Linked DNA regions of Homo sapiens. The protein of the gene in region 2 interacts with the protein of the main gene of each other region in a pairwise test. Each region holds a gene or a part of one and is shown on either strand. Other genes may lie near its edges. The genes, in order: BTBD2 and NGB.

Evidence for each region.
Region 1: the proteins of NGB (region 2) and BTBD2 interact in binary tests that used the Homo sapiens proteins (3 or more experiments, as listed by UniProt).

Annotation. Positions count from the first base shown.
Region 1 is NC_000019.10:2,005,429-2,012,940, forward strand, and holds part of BTBD2 (BTB/POZ domain-containing protein 2), read right to left. Parts: intron 1-7,512.
Region 2 is NC_000014.9:77,264,983-77,268,206, forward strand, and holds the end of NGB (neuroglobin), read right to left. Parts: intron 1,689-3,224; coding exon 1,554-1,688; 3' UTR 501-1,553; downstream 1-500. UniProt on the Homo sapiens protein: Monomeric globin with a bis-histidyl six-coordinate heme-iron atom through which it can bind dioxygen, carbon monoxide and nitric oxide.

The DNA.
Region 1 (7,512 bases), on a different chromosome or scaffold from region 2:
CCTCAGCCTCCTGAGTATCCGGGACTAGGGCGTGCACCACCATGCCTGGCTAATTTTTAAAATTATTTTTTAGCCAGGCGCAGTGGCTCATGTCTGTCATCCCAGCACTTTGGGAGGCCGAGGCGGGTGGATCACCTGAGGTCAGGAGTTCGAGACCAGCCTGACCAATAGGATGAAACGCCATCTCTCCTAAAAATACAAAACGTAGTCAGGTGCAGTGGCCGGAGCCTGTAATCCCAGCTACTAAGGAGGCTGAGACAGGAGAATCGCTTGAACCTGGGAGGCAGAGGTTGCAGTGAACCAAGATCACACCATCGCGCTCCAGCCTGGGAACAAGAGCAAAACTCCGTCTCAAAAAAAAAAAAAAAAATTATTTTTTAGCCAAAGCAGTGGCTCACACCTGTAATCCCAGTGCTTTGGGAGGCCAAGTTGGGAGGATCACCTGAACCCACAAGTTCAAGACCAGCCTGAGCAACACAGCAGACCCCATCTCTACTAAACAGAAAAAAATCAGCCGAGCATAGTGGTGCATGTCTATAGTCCCAGCTACTTGGGAGGCTAAGGTGGGAGGACTGTTTGAGCCCAGAAGCTGGAGGCTGCAGTGAGCTATGATCGAGCCACTGAACTCCAGTGTGGGTGACAGAGTGAGACCCTGTCTCTAAAAAAAAAAAAAAAAATTTAATTTTTAAAAAGTCTAAGAGTCCAAGGGGTCAATACTAGACACACATGGCTATTTAAATCTATATCCAAATTCAGCTGAATTCAACATTCAACTCCTCGGTCACACTGTCCACATCTGTAGTCCGTACTGGCACATGAGTGCCTAGTATTGGACAGCACACATCCAAACCATCCCGCTTACTACAGGATACTCTACTGCAGAGCACAAGACCACAGAAAAACTGTTAAACCTAATAAGGCTTCAGGAAGAAACAGTTCAAACCAGATAAAAGTAAACATGCCAGCTACTCGGGAGGCTGAGGCAGGAGAATCACTTGAACCCAGGAAGCGGAGCTTGCAGTGAGCTGACACTGTGCCACTGCACTCCAGCCTGGGCGACAGAGCGAGACTCCGTCTCAAAAAAAAAAAAAAAGAAAAGAAAAATCACCCAACTTTATGTCCTTAGAAAGACCAATCTCCTCAGTAAATTCCTTTATCACTTGACAAACTGATTCTCAAGATCATCAGGCACCGTTAGCCCAGGGCTGGCAAACTATGGCCCTTAGAGTGAATCTGGCCCACCACTTGTTTTTGTAAATTAAGTTTTTTTTTTTTCTGAGACGGAGTTTCACTCTTGTTGACCAGGCTGGCCTGCACTGGCACTACCTCAGCTCACTGCAACCTCCTCCTCCCAGATTCAAGCGATTCTCCTGCCTCAGCCTCCTACGTAGCTGGGATTACAGGTGCTCACCACCATGCCCAGCTAATTTTTTTATTTTTTATTTTTTTGAGACGGTCTCACTCTATCGCCCAGGCTGGAGTGCAGTGACGCGATCTCGGCTCGCTGCAACCTCTGCTGCCCAGGTTCAAGCAATTCTCCTGCCTCAGCCTCCCAAGCAGCTGGGATTACAGGCGCTCGCCACCACGCCCGGCTAATTTTTGTATATTTAGTAGAGATGGGGTTTCACCATCTTGGCCAGGCTGGTCTTGAACTCCTGACCTCATGATCCACCTGCCTCGGCCTCCCAAAGTGCTGGGATTACAGGCGTGAGCCACTGCGCCCAGCCACTTTTTGTATTTTTAGTAGAGACGGAGTATCACCATGTTGGCCAGGCTGGTCTTGAACTCCTGACCTGAGGTGATACTCCTGCCTCGGCCTCCGAAAGTGCCAGGATTACAGGTGTAATCCACTGCACCTGGCCAATAAAGTTTTATTAGAACACAGCTCTTCTTGCTCAGTTACATGTTGTTGATTTATGGCTTTTTGTGCTGCTACGGCAGAATTAAGTAGCTGCAACTGAGACAGTATGGCCTGCCAAAAATATTTACTATCTGACCCTTCACATGAATTTGCTGGCACCTGTGTCTTTTATCTGTTTTGGTTTTGTTTTACACACAGTCAAGGTCTCACTATGTTGCCCACACTGGTACCAAACTCTTGGCTTCAAAAGATCTTCCCGCCTTAGGCCAGGGACGGTAGCTCACACCTGTAATCCCAGTACTTTGGGAGGCCGGGGATAGCCTGAGGTCAGGAGTTTGAGACCAGCCCGGCCAAAATGGCGAAACCCCGTCTCTAAAAATACAAAAATTAGCCGGGTGTGGTGGTGCACACCTGTAATCCCAGCCACTCGGGAGGCTGAGGCAAGAGAACTGCCGGGAACCCAGGAGGCAGAGCTTTGCAGCGAGCCAAGATCATGCCACTGCACTTCAGCCTGGGCAACAGAGCGAGACTCTGTCTCAAAAAATAATAAAACAAAACACAGAATATAAGTTCCATAAGGAAGGAGATGTTTTTCTGTCATATGCACCTCCTGTAGCCAGGACTGTATTTCAGTGAGTATCTGTAGGGTGGACAGATGGGTGGATGTGGGTGACTGATTCTAGAAGAGTAATAAATGTGTCAGACCAGCTGAGAAAGTCTTTTTTTTTTTTTGAGACAGAATTTTACTCTTTTTGCCCAGGCTGGAGTGCAGCAGCACGATCTCAGCTCACTGCAACCTCCACCTCCCAGGTTCAAGCAATTCTCCTGCCTCAACCTCCCGAGTAGCTGGGATTACAGGCACCTGCCACCACGCCTGGCTAATTTTGTATTTTTAGTAGAGACAAGGTTTCACTATGTTTGCCAGGCTGCTCTCAAACTCCTGACCTCAGGTGATCCGCCTGCCTCAGCCTCCCAAAGTGCTGGGATTACAGGGGTGAGCCACTGCGCCCACTCTTTTTTTTTTTTTCTAGGTGGAGTCTCGCTGTGTTGCCCAAGCTGGAGCCCAGTCGTGCGATCTCAGATCACCACAACCTCTGCCACCCAGGTTTAAGCGGTTCTCCTGCCTCAGCCTCTCAAGCAGCAGGTGCAAGCCACCATGCCTGGGTACTTTTTGTATTTTTAATACAGACAGAGTTTCACTATGTTGGCCAAGTTGATCTCGAACTCCTGACCTCAGGTGATCTGCCCGCCTTGGCCTCCCAAAATGCTGGGATTACAGGCGTGAGCCACTGTGCCCAGCTTTTTTTTTTTTTTTTTTTAGGGACAGAGTCTCACTCTATCGCCCAGGATGGAGTGCAGTGGTAGGATCATGGCTCACTGCAGCGGCAACCTCCCAGGCTCAGGTGATCCTCCTACCCGAGCCTCCTGAGTAGCAGGGACCACAGGCACACACCACCATGTCCAAGTAATGAGGTCTCGCTATATTGGCCAGACTGGTCTCGAACTCCTGGGGTCAAGTGATCCTCCCACCTCAGCCTCCCAAAGTGCTGGGATTACAGATGTGAGCCACTGCACTCAGCCTGAAAAGTCTTCACAAAGAATAAAGTTGGGAAGAATTTGGTGAGCAGTTCTCAAAACATACCACAAAGCAGCAATCATCAAACAATGTGTTATGGGAACAAGGACTCACAAAGCAGTCAATGAAATGTGAGACCCCAGAACACACTGTTCTTTTTTTTTTTTTTCCAAGACAGAGTCTCGCTTTGTCACCCAGGCTGAAGTGCAGTGGCACAATCCTGGCTCACTGCAACCTCCGCCTCCCAGGTTCAAACGATTATCCTGCCTCAGCCTCCCCAGTAGCTGGGGTTACAGGCGCTCGCCACCACGCCCGGCTAATTTTTGTGGTTTTTCTTTTTTCTTCTTTTTTGAGGCGGAGTCTCAGTCTGTCACCCAGGTTGGAGTGTGGTGGCGTGATCTTGGCTCACTGCAACCTCCGCCTCCCGGGTTCAAGCAATTCTCCTGCCTCAGCCTCCCAAGTAGCTGGGATTACAGGTGCCCACCGCCACACCAGGCTAATTTTTTGTATTTTTAGTAGAGACGGGGTTTCACCATGTTGTCCAGGCTGGTCTCAAATTCCTGACCTCGTGATCCGCCTGACTCGGCCTCCCAAAGTGCTGGGATTACAGGCGTGAGCCACCACACCCACCCAGATTGTTCTACTTCTAGACCTCGCTACAATGCTGACAGTTCCATGATAGAGTGAATAAAGATACGTTAGGCTGGGCGCGGTGGCTCACACCTGGAATCCCAGCACTTTGGGAGGCCGAGGTGGGTGGATCACCTGAGCTCAGGAGTTCACCATCACCCTGGGCAACATGACGGAAATACTGTCTCTACTAAAAATACAAAAATTAGCTGGGCGTGGTGGCGCACACCTGTAATCCCAGCTACTCAGAAGGCTGAGACAGGAGAATTGCTTGAGCCAGGGAGCTGAAGGCTGCAGCATGCGGAGATCACGCCACTGTACCCCAGCCTGGGCAATAGAGCAAGATTCTGTCTCAAAAAAACAAAAAAGGAGGGGAGGCCAGGTGCGGTGGCTCACGCCTGTAATCCCAGCACTTTGGGAGGCCGAGGTGGGCGGATCACCTGAGGTCGGGAGTTTGAGACTAGCCCGGCTAACATGGTGAAACCCCGTCTCTACTAAAAAATACAATTAGCCAAGTGTGGTGGCGGGTGCCTGTAGTCCCAGCTACTCGGGAGGCTGAGGCAGGAGAATGGCATGAACCTGGGAGGCGGAGCTTGCAGTGAGCGGAGATCGCGCCACTGGACTCCAGCCTGGGCAACAGAGCGAGACTCCGTCTCAAAAAAAAGAAAAAGGTATTTTAGATACTAACTTCATGGGACCAGCCAATGTGCACATCTACAAAAGTGCAACCCTGGAGATCTTCAGTTCTCCCTTCAAGCCCCATGAGAGAATCAGATGTTTAATTCCCACAGATCATTCAATGCACAATCACTGCGTGCCTACTGTGTGCCAGGCTCCAGCGCGCTGAGATGGACGGGTGCCCATCCAGGACCGGGGAACAGCCCAGAAGCCGCGTGCAACCCCTGGCCTCCTCCCCAGCACAAACGCCGACCCCTGCGCGACGGTCCAGACACTGGGGCCACCACCAAGGCCTGCTCCCAGCCTCCTCTCTGCCATGTCTCAGCTCACCCTGCACCCCCGCCAGGGACCAGGCCCAAGCCCAGGCCACTTGCTCTCCTCACAGCTGGCAAGGCCCGGCCCCTCTCTGCTCATCGGTGAACTCCAGACTTTATCCCAGCACCCCCAGTTCGTCCCGACATCCCCCCACCTTTTTTTTTTTTTTGAGACGGAGTCTCGCCCTGTCACCCAGGCTGGAGTGCAGTGGCGCAATCTTGGCTCACTGCAATTTCTGCCTTCCGGATTCAAGCCATCCTCCTGCCTCAGACTCTGAGTAGCTGGGATTACAGGTGCGTGCCACCGCGCCCAGCTTATTTGTGTATTTTTAGTAGAGACGGGGTTTTGCCACGATGGCCAGGCTGGTCTCAAACCCCTGACCTCAGATGTCTGCCCATCTCGGCCTCCCGAAGTGCTGGGATGATAGGCGTGAGCCACTGCGCCCGGCCTCAGCTGCTGTTTTCTTTCTCTCTGCTGTGTGGCCTGTGGCTGTCAGCAACCCATCGGGTCCGTTTGTTCCCACAGCCCCAGGACAGATGTGTCTGAGTGACCTTGTTTCAATCATGGAAACTGAGGCACAGAGCACTTGGGACACACTGCTCTGCGGACCTCTCAGCCCCAGGTCCCGCCAACACATCCAAGCCAGTACTTGTCCCTCCTGAGCCTGTCCTGGCTTGTGATGCTCCAGCCAGAAGTCTGGGGACCCCCACCACAGCCCCCCACGCCCTCACCTGCCAAGCTGCCTCCTCTCCTGGCCACAGGAACTCGCTTCCTCCAAAGAGGACCTGCATCCTCTACCCCTCATTTCTGCCGTCCCCACCGAGCCCGCTGCTGTCTCCTGCCTGGAGTCTGCAGCTGCTACTCCCCAGCCTCGCTCCTGGGCCCATCCACGGCGCGTTCCACCCTCAATGCGGATCTGGTCACACTGGGCCACAGGGCCTCCCTCACTCCTCCTGCTCCGGCCTTGCCATGGCTCCCACCTGCCCAGCCCCTCTGGGCTCTGGGCCTTCCATCCCTGAGCCTGGGGCACTGCACTCTCCATCAACATCACTTGCTCAGGGGGTCGTTCTGGACCAGGTCAGTGCCCCCTCTCCATTTTCAACCCTCCTGAAATGCTAAGGAAACACAGATGACCTTTCAACAAGGCAGGCTTCAACTGCACAGGTCCACTCATATGTGAATTTTTTCAATAAAGGCTGCCCCAACGGTGCCGGCCTCTCCTGCCTCCCCTTCCACCTCTGCCACCCCGGAGACAGACCCACCCTCCTGCTCCTGCTCCTCAGCCCTCAATATGAACACAAGGACACAGGCCTTCATCGTGGCCACCTCCACTGTGTGAACAGCAAACAGGATTTCTCCTTTTATTTTTTTTCCTTTTTTTTTTGAGACAGAGTCTTGCTCTGTCGCCCAGGCTGGAGTGCAGTAGCGCAACCTCGGCTCACTGCAACCTCCGCCTCCCGGGTTCAAGTGATTCTCCTGCCTCAGCCTCCCAAGTAGCTGGGACTACAGTTGTGCACCACCACACCCGGCTAATTTTTTGTATTTTTAGTAGAGACGGTGTTTCACCACGTTGGCCAGGATGGTCTCAAACTCCTGACCTCATGATTCGCCCGCCTCGGCCTCCCAAAGTGCTGGGATTACAGGCGTGAGCCACCGCGCCCAGCCTGTCCTTTATTTTTTTTGAGATGGTGTGTCACTGTGTCGCCTGGGCTGGAGTGCAATGGCGCAATCTCGGTTCCCTGCAACCTCCACCTCCTGGGTTCACGAGATTCTCCTGCCTCAGCCTCCTGAGTAGCTGGGATTACAGGTGTGCGCCACCACGCCCGGCTAATTTTTGTATTTTTGTAGAGACAGGGTTTCACCGTGTTGACCAGGCTGGTCTCGATCTCCCGACCTCGTGATCTGCCCGCCTCGGCCTCCCAAAGTGCTGGGATTCCAGGCGTGCGCCCCCGCACCCGGCCCCTTAGACTTTTCTGAATGTATTTTCTGTTCTCCAGCCTGTTATTGTGAGAACAGGAGGCTGGTGTGCATTGACCAAGTGTCCTCACAAGGCCTCCGGTCAGCGAGAAGCCATTCCTAGTTAAGTTCGTGGGAGTCAAAAGTTGTACTTGGATTTGAGCTGAGTGGGGGTCCACGCCCCTAACCCCGCATGTCGAGGGTCCGCTGTCCCAGGCCCGCCCACCTTACCTTGCTGCTATCTCCCGCTGGGCCTCATTGCCCTCTCCTGAGCCCCCCGGGGGCAGACCCCTCACCTACTTTTCTCCAAGGGGTCCTTGTCCTGCCTCCATCTTCCCCACTTTGCAACCGAGCCAGCGGTCCCTCAAGTGCAATCGCATACATGTCCCAAGGTCAGCCGGTGCCCGGGGCGCCCCACCTCCCCCCTCAAACAGAAAGCCTGGGATTCTCCAGCTGCACCTGCTGCTGGGTGAGTTCCAGCTGCATCCAACCTACC
Region 2 (3,224 bases):
TGATTCTGATTAATAGGCACCTTCCTCCAAGCAGCGATTCAGGGTCAGGACTCCTTTCACCTGTGGCTCTGCCATGTTCAACACGTGGCCCTCATGGTCTCTGTGAGGTCTGTATCACACCAGCAGAAGGATGACAGAGCATGGAGGAGCATGCAGGAGTTTTGGGGGACCAGGCCTCGGAGTGGCACACACATCTGCACGGTCCAGCGGCCAGAGCCCAGTCACATGCCCCACCTAATTGCAAGGGTGGCTGCATGACATCCAGCTGTGTGCCCAGGAGGAAGAAGAGCTGGTTTGTGGTCTGCCAGCCAGTTTGGGCCACAGACCCCACAGATGTCTGCCACTGGCTTCCCAGAGCTTCCTCCCAGGCCCCTCCCTCCTGTTCCACCCACTCCAGCCTTGGCCTCCCTGACTCCATCCTCCCATCCTGTCCTGAGATCCACTGCCCTGCAGCTTCATCTGGCACAGGCCAAGACCCAAGAAAAGATCAGGCCCGAGGGTCAGAGAGGCACACAGAACCAGTTTATTTCTCATGAATTTATAGGACCACAGTCAGCACAGAGCAAATGGTACAAGTGCAGATGGCTGGGGTGAGGGCGGGGGCCTCTGCTGCTGCCTTCTCTTCTCTCCAGCTGCCTGAGTACTGGCACACAGCGGGCAGTGAATCTGAGGAGCTGTGGCCTCACAGTCGCTGCAGGCTGAGCCAGAAAGGAGGGCCAGGGGAGGTAAGACTCACTCCTGCAGGAGCGGGTTGGTGATGAAGGGCTGGGGGAACTCGGGTCTCTCTGGGATGAAGTCACCCCTCCTTCCTGGCCGGTCCCCAGCCCCTCCCCACCTGGCCAGCTAGCTGGGTTCCTGCAGCAGCGGAATAGTCAGGGAGTTCCCAGCAGAAGTGCTGAATGAGGGAAAGGGAATGCCGCCAAAGGAAACCGACTCTGTCAGGGCATCTGCACAGCCCGCGAGACTCAAATGAGACCCATTGAGACCCAGGTCCCCCTTCCCTTCCCTGGCAGTTCTGATTCTGCTCCCACTGCCTGGGATTCCACCAAGAAGGCTAAAGCTGCTCTTTCTCTTTATTTGTGAAAAGCAAGCCATCTTGGGGCAGGAAAGCAGTGAAGGGACTGGGCAGGCAGGACAGAAGGCGCTGGAAGCTCAGCCATCTCACCCCCGCCTTGGCCTGCACTCACCTGAAGAAGCAGGACAGACAGAAGAGCCCCATCCTCTCCCACCTCCATACCTTTCCAGCTCATCCCACCTCTGCCACCAAAACACTCATCGCGGGGTCAGAGGGAGTGCCAAAAAAGGTAAAAAGAAACGCAAGAAAGAGGCTACTGGGGATGAGGGGACACCCAGAAGCCCCTTCCTGGAGGAAAAGCCACTCCTTCTGCAGCTGGACTCTAGGATACTGAGACCCAGCCCTGCCCCATCACCTCTCCAGTGTGGCCAAGGGGACAAGGACCAAGATGCAGGGAAGCTTGGGGAGCCTGGGCTACAACAGATACAGGCCAACAGACAGACACAGATGGATGGGGGCTGCCGGGCGGGGTCGCCTCTTACTCGCCATCCCAGCCTCGACTCATGGCCTGCACTACGGCCCCGTAGAGTTGGCTCCAGGCAGCCCGTGTGGCTGGTGTGAAGGCAGGGCCCAGACACTTCTCCAGCATGTAGAGCAGAGACTCACCCACTGTCTGCAGAGGCAAGGGGCACCTTGTCACTTCCAAAGGCAGAAAGGCACTGCTCCATTCCACAGGTGAGAAAACTGAGGCCTAGGACTGATTAGGGCTCCTGGGCCTTTTTTCCTCTCCTGCATTGAGTCCATGCTTCCTGAGCAGGGTCCTACCCAAATCCTTGGGTATCACATTGTGTCTACCTTTCCCTCTAAATGTGAGGCTTTATATCCTCACATTTTTCACCCCTGTCTTGGTCTTGCAACCACCCCATGAGTGGGGCCAAGACATTGCCTGGGACCTCCCAGCTTAGACCAAACCAAGTCATTGCTCCCAGACTTGAGTTTCCTCATCTGCAAGGCAGCAATGATGGGGTTAAGAGCCTGGGCTCTGGAGCCAGATAGACCTGAGTACAGATTCTGACTCCACCCTTCATCAGCTGGGTGACCTTGGGTAAGTTATGTAACCTCTCTGAGCCTCAGCTGCTTCATCAGTGATACAGGGAAAGTAGAAGCTCCAACTCCTGGGCCTGTTGGGATGATTAAATGGGATAATCCAGAAAAAGCTCTTAGCACAGCATCTGTATACAGGAAACCTACAATGATAATAGGCCAGGTGCAGTAGCTCACGCCTATAATCCCAGCACTTTAGGAGGCTGAGGTGGGCAGACCACTTGAGCCCAGGAGTTTGAGACCAGCCTGGTAAACATGGGAAAACTCCATCTCTACCAAAAATACAAAAATTAGCTGGGCATGGTGGTGCATGCCTGTAGTCCCAGCTATGAGGGAGGCTGAGGTGGGAGGATCACTTGAGCCTGGGAGGTTGAGGCTGCAGTGAGCTGTGATCACATCACTGTACTCCAGCCTAGGCGACAGAGCAAGATTCTGTCCCCAGAATAAATAAGTAAGTAAATAAATAAATAAAGATAATGGCTCTCATTTGCCATTATTACTCATAATAAAATAAGGTTTATTTATCTCACAAATATTAACTGAATATCCACTGTAGCCCTGGTAGATCAGGCACTATGCTGGTGCTGGGGATGGAGAGGAGGACAAGACCAACACAGCTCCTTCCTCAAGGTGCTCACCATCTGGCAAGGTGACTGGACTGTGTGGTGTACTGTCATATCAGTCGCCCCCAGTGGGCTACACCTCAAGGATTCATGCCCTTGAGTAGGGTCCTCCCACATTGACACTGGGCTTATCCATGTGAGTGGCTTTGGCCAATGGGACATTAGCAAAAGTGATGCAAGCAGAGGCTTTATAGGCACTTTCACACTGGGGCTTGTCCTCTAAAAACTCCCCCTTGGAACTCAGCTGCTATTCTATAAAGAAGCTCAGCTAGACTAGTGAATGACAACAAATCACAGGGACAGAGCTCAAAGGCTGACAGGCCTTGGACATTCTAGCCTCAGTTGAGCTCCCAGCTAAACATAACACACAAGTAACTCCAGCTACACCATGTGGAGCAGAAGAGCTGCCCAGCTGAGCCCAGCCATGAGAAATCGGAAAGCATTGTCATAGTTCTAGGGTTGTTTGATACATAGCAATAGAA